Regions from separate parts of the Homo sapiens genome. Here region 1 is linked to region 2. Evidence: fine-mapped expression QTL. A gene starts in region 2. The other region holds a variant in brackets. All regions are shown on one strand. Distances are from middle to middle.

The links. PIP is the estimated chance that this variant, and not a neighbour inherited with it, causes the effect.
Region 1: its variant is fine-mapped to the expression of PTK7 in whole blood (INTERVAL, PIP above 0.99).

The regions. Positions count from the first base shown.
Region 1 is chr6:43,142,685-43,147,065 of GRCh38, reverse strand. It overlaps PTK7 (protein tyrosine kinase 7 (inactive)), which reads right to left. Exons shown (of 20, transcript NM_002821.5): 14 at 3,446-3,649; 15 at 2,460-2,615; 16 at 1,634-1,866; 17 at 368-448. Among named protein-coding and RNA genes, the nearest start is that of SRF, 26 kb to the left of the region's middle. RefSeq lists an enhancer at 3,551-3,640. The variant T/C (reference allele first, on the strand shown) is at 2,392.
Region 2 is chr6:43,073,909-43,078,289 of GRCh38, reverse strand. PTK7 (protein tyrosine kinase 7 (inactive)) reads right to left here and starts at 1,976. Exons shown (of 20, transcript NM_002821.5): 1 at 1,723-1,976. The coding sequence starts at 1,801. KLC4 (kinesin light chain 4) reads right to left here. Exons shown (of 16, transcript NM_201521.3): 15 at 4,325-4,381; 16 at 3,197-3,668. The coding sequence ends at 3,618. It overlaps KLC4-AS1 (KLC4 antisense RNA 1), which reads left to right and starts at 2,060. Exons shown (of 2, transcript XR_002956347.1): 1 at 2,060-2,595; 2 at 3,023-3,957. RefSeq lists a silencer at 1,889-1,988 and an enhancer at 2,318-2,841.

The sequences.
Region 1 (4,381 bases), 69 kb before region 2:
TGCTTGCTGCTTCTCCAGCTCAGAGCTCATTGCAGGTGGGCAGGCGTCCTGCTCCAATGCAAGCTCCTGCCCAGAGGCAAGGTCCGAGGGTAGCTCTTCTCCGTGAAGCCAGCATGGCAATGCAAAGCCACTTCCAGGCTACATGACCTGGGACAGGTCAGACAACCTCCTAAGCCTCAATGTCTTCATCCACAAAATGGGGATAGTAGTATATATTTCAGACGACTACCGTGATAATTACAGTAACACATGTGAAGTTCTTACCATAGGGCCTGGCCCATAGAGAGCCCTCAATAAATGGTGCCTCTGTTGCTCCTGGCCCACCCCTGGGCACCCTCTCCCTCCCTCCTTCACTCCCTGTCCTCACCTTCTGCTTGGTGCTGAGGGGCTGTGACTTCAATTTTTCATCCTTGCTCTTGGAAATCCTCAGGAACTGCTTGAGGTCTCCCTAAGGGAAAAGCCAGGCATCTCGCTCAGGTCAGTGCACAGCCATTGGCTGTAAAGCCTCAGACCAAGCAGGTGCTCGCAGAATTCCTGCCTGGGGAGGCAGTGAGAAGGCCTAAGCTAGCCTGGGCCCCTTTCCCAGGGGGAAGTTCACTGGGAGTGCAGAACTTTAAAAATATATAGGAGACGCCTCCTAGAGGCTGTCTCAGTTAGAAAGGAGGAGAATTGGCATTTCTACCCCAAGGGGAACCTCCAGACAGGTGGGGCAACAGAGCCCCCATCTTCAGTGAGCCAAGAGGAAAACAGTCCCCTACCCTCTGCCCTCAAAGATTCCTGAGAGGAAACCCCTGTCCTCCAGAGCTTTACAATCTAATCTAAACAAACAAAGGAGAACGCCAGCAGCAGAAACATACATAAAGCATTCATAAGTACTTGTTTGTTTGTTTTTAATTTTTTTGTAGAGACAGAGTCTTGCTATGTTGCCCAGGCTGGTCTCGGACTCCTGGCCTCAGGCGATCCTCCTGCCTCAGTCTCCCAAAGTGCTGGGATTACAAGTGTGAGCCACTGTGCCCAGCCGCGTAAGTACTTGTTAATGGAAAGACTGATAGGACTCCTGCCCGCTCTTGCCCCAGAACTAGGGATTTGAGAAGCAGCAGTTTGAGGACCATGGGGTGAGGGCAAGGACCAGCTGGGGAATGAAGAGGAAGGCGCAGCTCTGGGAATGACACCCTGAGTGGAGAGGAGAAGGCTGGTGGCTGGGGTAACACTCATGTCACAAGTGGTGCTAGGAAGGAGGGAGGCAAAGTGGGTTCTGATATATTTATTCTCAAGTGGGGACAAGCTTTTGGGGAGGAAAAAATAACAAACCAAAGAAAACAAGAGTCAGAGAAGATGACCTGGAAGGCATCCCTGCAGTGTGACAGTGAGAAGTCCCAGAAAAACTTAGGACCAACGCCCCTGAGATACAGATGGAAAGACTGGGTGCTGATAAAGGGAAAGCAGGCATCCAAGAGCAGGGAAGGCAGAAGCTGAGCATCATAAGGTGGGCAAAGTGTAACAGCAGGCAGGTGAGGTCTCGGCTGAGACTGCACGAGACAAGGTTTTCACGGTGCTCCAACCACTGACTCCCACCTTTGTAGGACACTGCCCTCCCTACCCGAGACCCCCACGTCCCCTGCCAACAGCATACCAGATCCACATATTCCAGCACCATGTAGTGGGGCTCAGCCTCCCGGCACAGCCCCAGGAGCCGCACCACGTTGGCGTGGTTCAGCTTCCCAAACATCTCCAACTCCCTCCGGAAGTCCAGCTGCTGCTGCTCATCCTTGCTCTGCAGGCTCTTCACAAGTACCAGGGTCTCTGCCACTCCCTCCTCCAAGCCCTGAGCCTTTGCCAGGAACACCTCCCCAAACTCACTCTTCCCTGTGGGTACAGTCTGAGTCAGCCAGCCACCTTCACCCAGGCCGAGGCAGCTCCTGACCTGGGGGAGGGGCCTAGCCTCTCCCACAGTGGGGACCCACCCACCTGGGCTGGGCACGAGACCCGGTTCTGCTGTGACCCCCTCCCTCCTTAGGCTTCAGTGTCTGCAGCAACAAAATAAAAGGGTGGGACTAATATTCAGCATTTTCCAAAGGGTGACTCGCATGAGAATTTTTGGTGGCTCATGGTAAACATGTCTTAACGTATGCTAGGAAAAAACGTAACTATGACAAACCCATGATTTCTCATATTTTTTCCTAGAACAATGGTAACTTAGTTTTTTTTTTTAAAGAGTCAATTTAAATAAAACATCAAGTAAATAATACTACAGGTAGTACACAGGAATGACAAAATCTGCACGAAGGGCAGTGAATAACAGGCTCTGGGGCCACACTGGGCTAGATCTCTACCTATGCTTCCCTCCACCTCTAACATTCTAGGTTTCAGGGACTTCAGAACACTAGCCCG[T/C]ACCCAGCCTCAAGACACAGCGGGTGACTTGTAGTTAGGCAGGGGCAGCTGTAGTCAAGGCAACATACCCAGCGTGGTGATGGGCTGCAGGCTAGACCGTGGGAAGTGCATCTTATCACTTGTGCTGTGGCGTTTGTTGGTGGCCGCGGGGCCGGAGCCCAAGCTGGTCAAGGCCACTTCTTCTTGGATCTCTGCTGAGGGCTGCCCGTTCTGCAAAGGCCCACCTGGGAAGGAGGAGGACAAGAGCGTCACGATGAGACCTGACACTCTGGCCACCATGGGGATTTCTGTTCTGTCCCCTGGTCTTCCACTCTTGCCAACTTGGGTCCAATCACAGTGCTCCACATGAAAGGGCAAGCCCAAATGATGAAATAATGGGGCTGGGGCTGGGTGGGGGATGTATGGCTATCCCCTAGGGTATGACCCCTTAGTGATGCAGCTGATTATGACCTCTGAGATGAAGCCAACTGCAGACATCTAATCTGAATCACTGGTCCTTAATACCATAGCTACACATAAGGATTTTTGCTTTCATGGGGCCTCCTATTGGGCAAAGCCCTAAACAGGCACAAAGGGAAAATCACAATAATGGAGACCCAACCTCTGCTCCTGAACACCTGAGCTGATAGGAGAGACCCAGCAATGACCTCAAGGAGCTCCCAGTCCAGGAAGTGGGGATAGGAGAAGGGAAGTAAACAGAAAGACTGCCCCTGGGGGAGCTCTTAGACTCATAGAGGGAGACAAGACATGCAACAGCAACGTGTGTACATATACTAATGATATCTGTGGTTTTGTGCTGGGAGGAGGAAACAGCAGGGAATCATAGGAAGCTGGTCCAAGGGGCTCCAATGAAGAAGTCTCAAGCCAGGTTGCTCAGAAGACGAGGCCCTGGGAATCCAACTCCAGGCTTCCCGCTAGGGGTGGGGCAGTCCCAGCTCCAGGACCCAGCAACAGCCGCTCGGTTTCCAGAGTGCTGGCGCTCTCCCCTCCGTGGCCGCGGGAGGGCGCTCAGCTCCCGCACACGGGCACCACCTCCCCGTCCAGGGCCCCTCACCGTTGAGGCATTCCATCTCTGGCTCCTCGCCCTCGGGCTGCTTCTGCAGCCGCTTGGCTTTGCAGCGCTTCTTGCAGTAGAACATGAGGCCCAGCACGGCAATGATGTAGGCCACAGCGGCACCCACCGACAACCCAATGGTCTGGATCATCTTGTAGGGGGGAGGGCTGCCAGGGCCCTCCGACTCCTCCGGCACAGGCTTGTCTGAGAGACACACAGATGGGTCTGGGCAGGGGCTGCTAAGCAAAAGAAGCCCTGCTTCTCTACTAACTCCTCCCAACCCCATCAACAGGGCAACTTAACAGATGGCCCGGGAGGGTCACCACCTTCACTGGCTTTAACAAGGGCCAGCAGGTCCTCATGCCCCACCAAGGTCAAACGAAGACTCTGAAGGAGATGAGGCCAGGGGTTCCCAAGCTGGCTTTGCATCGGAAGCCAAGACAGGCGACACGGATAAGCACACCTGTCAAGGAGCTACCACAAACCCACGTTATTTGTTAAGCTTCCCAAGTGACTTGATAATGTGAGCCAGGCCCCGGAGAGCAGCATTTGGGAGCTTCAGGTTTAGAATTCCAGGCACTGCCTGGCACAGAGCAGGTTTTTCAATAAGCAGATCTGTAGAAGGGATCTGCTGGTCTAGGGGCCTTTTAATGGCCCACACTGAGGGGCCTCAAGAGGCATTAGGGGAATGAAGGGAGACCATGCAGGATCCCCCAACTGCCACACACACCCCAGTGGCTCCCACCAAGGGGGCCTCCTCAGTTCATTTTCATCCATTTAAACTTTCACATTATACTTTGTCTAGAAAAATAACTCTGCTGCCAAACCAAGAAAGTTTAAGAGCTTCTCATTTAAACCACTTTCACCTGTGGATGCAGAAACAAGTCCCCAGAGGAGAAATAAGTCTCCCAGGGGCAGAGAGTTAAGTGCAGGGCC
Region 2 (4,381 bases):
CCAACAGGATCCCCCACACACACGCGCGCACACACACTAAACACCAACCAGTCACCAGATTAAGTCAATTAACATCAGAGTCATCTTCTCATGGAAGGAATTTAGGAATTCAGCATTTGTTGAGCAAGAGCCCCATCTTCACCAGAAACTCCCCTTGACTCTAGTACCCTGAACAGCAGCAGTGAAGGCAGCCTCATTGGGCAGACCCACACACCAAAACCCAACCAGGACAGCCAGGGGGCCTGTGAGCTTGGGCTGCTCGCCCAGATGGCTGGGCCCCCATCCTGGCTGTGCAAAAAAACTTCCATACTTCCTCTGGGAGCAGATGTGGATTCTGCCACGAGCAATAACCACCACACACATCACAAGAAAAACGGGGCAACTCCAGAAACACCTCCTCCAAATCCCTGGAGATTGGTCTCTTTCCTGGGTTACATTTACCTCTCCTTTTACAACTGGGGGCAGGGGAGATGTTGATTCCACCAGCACCAAAACCCCTCCACAGCTGGCAGGCCAGAAAGATATTAGAAAGGCAATTCCTTACCCATGCCCTTCCCATTGCCACCTTCAAAGGAGATGGAAGGTGATCACCTAGGACAGGTCTCCTCGACAGAGCTCCCCAAGAGAAAGCTGCTTCGAGGACCACCAAGGAGTGTTGTGGAGGGTCGGGGGCTTTATTTCCAGTCCGGGCTATTTGGGATGTGCGGGTGGCTTGGTGCTTTCCTGTAAGGCACTTCAACACCTCAGTGATGACTCTTAGGTGTGACCAAGCCAGGAAATAAAAGCTGCGGGAGTTGGGGGGGCGGTGCTGTCTGCCCTGGTGATGAGGGCCACACCCTCGTTAAAATGCTAAGGCCCCCCCCCAAGAAAAGCCAGAATGAGCTCTTTTTGCCTTTCTTCCCTTAGAAATACTTCCTTTCCTCTGTGAGGACAGTCAGGATGGAAATCCAGGAAGGAGCAGAACAAACCCCGTCCGCACCTTTGCAGCCAGGCCATGCCCGATTTTGGCAGCGGCCTTCACACATTAGTCACCGCGACAGCCTGGGACCCTCGGATCCCCGGATTCGGCCCTGGCACGGAGTGGGCGCAGGGTTCCAGACCAGTAGCTAGAGGCCATGGATGGGGGCGGCCCCTAACTCTTCCCTTCTTCCGCCCTCACCCGCAGGGCCATCTGGGGTCTCAGCTTTGCCCAGGAACTCGGAGGAGGGAAGCCGGGAACGTCGGGTCGGCGTAGGTAACAAAGCTCCGCGCTTTGCGCGCCGCAGGTCTGTCCGGCATCGGGCCCCAAACCAGCAACTCTTACCTGGGCCGACCCTGCCGGGTGGGGTGGGGAATTCCTTTTTCTCCATCGCGCTCCCCACGGTGGGTGCGGATGGTCTTTTCTCCCCCGACAAGAAACTCCCCATCTGGGCCCGAGAGCCAGCAACTCTCGGCAGTTCTCGAGCAAACTCTCGGCTCAGACCAGAAAAACTCAGGGAGGCTGGAAATGCGTCCCCGCGGCGCGAGTGGGAGGGGTACCCTGACCGCGTCCCTGGAGGCTTCGCCAGCCTCCCGACACCCGGGCTCCTTGCGCCCTTCCGCCGCAAGCCTGCACCCCCAGCGAGCCTCTCCACTACTCCAGGGCCGTTCCAGCCGCCCAAACCCACCGCCCCGGGCGCAGCCTTTTGCCCACGGGACTCCCGCGCTTCCCAAGCTCTGTGCCCCCAACTCTCGGGTACTCACCGCCCAGCAGCGGCAGCAGCAGGACGCTGAGCAGAGGCAACCGGCGGGGTCTGGCCGGGGATCCCCGCGCAGCTCCCATCGCGGCGGGCTCAGGAAAAGGAGCTGAGGGCGCACGGCGGGCGCGCAGACTGCGCTCCGCGGCGGGCACAGGAGGCGGAGCGCACCGGAGCGCGGGCGCCGCAGCAGCAGCCGCAGCCGGAGCCCGACCCCGAGGCGTCCCGAGGCGTCCCGAGCCGGAGCCGCGCGCGCCCAGTACCTCCGAGTCCCCGCGCGCCGCCGCCGCCGCCGCCAAGCCCCGCCCCACGACGCCCCCTCCCCTCCGGCCCCCGCACGGCGCCCCGCCCCCTCGACGCCCCCTCCTCGCCGAGGCGGGGAGGAGCTCAGTAGGGGGAGGGGTCTGGAGAGGGATGGAGAATAGAGAGAGCAAGGCTCAGGGAAGTGCAGGGGACCTGAGTATTTGCTGTACCCACCACCGACTCTGCAGGGATCCGGGAGAACCTAAGTGACTTGTGCGATTCCGTGGACCCTGGGGAGAATGGTCCATTCTGGGCATACCTGGAGGCTCTGGCCAACAGTTCCCCCAGAATTCTCCAGGTGGGGGCAGGGGAAGAGGCGGGCCCCGCCAACTCTTCAGCAACCCAAAATCTTAACGGCAGACCCAGAACAGCAGGGTGTCCTTAATGTCCCCAAGTAACCTGAAGATGCTGTGTAGCCCGGAGAGGGGCTGAAGTGTGCATGACTGGGGTCTGGTTTGGCTGTAGACCAATCTGAACCCAAAGGTAGAAACACGCTGGGCTCTGAAAGCCAGGCTGAAGTCTGCTAACTGACAAATTCATCCCAAGTCCATCTCCAGGCAGTCTGGGCTGTGTCAGGGTATGGCCAAGTCTCCAGCTGTGGGGAGGCCCAGCACAACCCTTGTTCCAGGCACCCCCACCCCCAGCGCCACCACCCCCACATTCTTTCTTTGTTGTGAAAGCAGCAAGGGGTGTAGGAGGCGGGTCAGGAGGAGTCAAGCTTTAGAAGATGGGCCCCAGCTGCTGCTCAGGCCTCCAAGATATGCTGAGAGGGGATGGATAGTGCCTTGTCTCCCCTCTGGTTCCGGAGGGCCCCCCAGGCCTGTTTAGACCTCCCTTCCCCCAAGCAGCTGGGAGGAGGAATGGCAGCCACAGAGGGCCTCACAGCCAGGAGAAGTGGCGCCAGGACTCCAGGGTCCTGCCACATGGCCACCACATGTCCCTGACAACCCAGTCCACAGCACCTTCTCCTTGGGTTGTGAGCCTCCTTCTTCCCCATCCCCCAGATGCCTTCCTACAGGCCCTGCTGGAGATGATACAAACAACGGGAGGAAGAGAGGAGAGATCCAAGAATCAACACTCCTCCTGCTGCTCCATCCATCACTGCCCCTCACCTTCTGTGAAGGGCCCCAACACAAGCCCTGCTTCATACCCTCTTCAATCAGGACTCAAGTCACAGAAAGGTTACCTGATTCTTTTATTTAAGAAAAGTGAAATACATGGACCTGAAGTGAGACAGCAGAGGGAGGGAGTAAGAGCGGCCAGGGCAAGGCAGCTTGGCTGGCCAGCCCCCAACCCTCTGACTGAAAAGCCAGCAGCAGGCTGCATCTCTGAGGGCCATACCTGCTTTGTACCCACCTTGGGGCCTCAGAGCTAGCTACTCTAGAGGACCACAGGGTGCAGAGAGGGTGTCCTGAGGGTCCTTCCTAAGAGGGATTCCTGAGGAGGGAGCTGAGACCCTAAGGGCAGCAGCAATCTTCTGGTTAAACTGCTCCCCTTCACTGTCCCACCTAGGGGTGGGGAAGAGCCAGGAGCAATGGGGAATGCTGTGAGGGCTGTGGGGGTGGGGGGACCCAGCAGACCTGGGGGCCGGGTTGAATGTCAGCTGCTTGAAGAGAGGTCCATGGTGCTGGCACTGAGGCCCCGGGAGACCTGAAACAGACAACACTACCCCATCAGCTCAGGGACCTCGGCCTCCCAAAGACTGGCTCCTAGAGTCCATCCATCCCATGGTCACAGTGTATCTCTGGACCTAGGATCACATCTGTCTCTGGACCAGTCTATCTCTGGACCTGGGACTTTGTTTAGCCTCTGCTAGGGTTTTCCAGAAGGCCACAATCTGGTGGAGAAGCTACCTGGAAGAACCACATGAATACTGGCATATACTTGTGTGTTGATACAAGAAGTCATTTGCCATTAAAATATCACTAGTGTTTTCTCAGATGGGGATTATTTAATACTTTTCTTTTTCCATTCTCATCTACTACTAAGGCGGCTGCAGGATGAAAAAATAATTCGTATCTCCAAATAATTCTTAAATTATTCATAATTCCAAAGTACCAGTTTACAGAATATTCCTATTTCCCTCCTTATTAACTTATTTGCTACTATGTCTGGCCTGAAACTGTCCCTTGGTGGTCAGCACTCACCACAAGCTATCTGCCTGATTCCTTAATGACTGCAATCCCCTGGCTCATCTTCATCCCAGATGACTCCTCTCCCTTCCCTCTTCCCTTACTCCACTGGGCTTGCTCACTGGCTGTCCTTTTTTCCTCACCCACCAATATGCTCACAAGCACTGCTCTCACCTGGAGGGGTGCTGCACTAGGTTGGTTCAGATAGTTCAAGGAGGCTGCTCGCTTCAT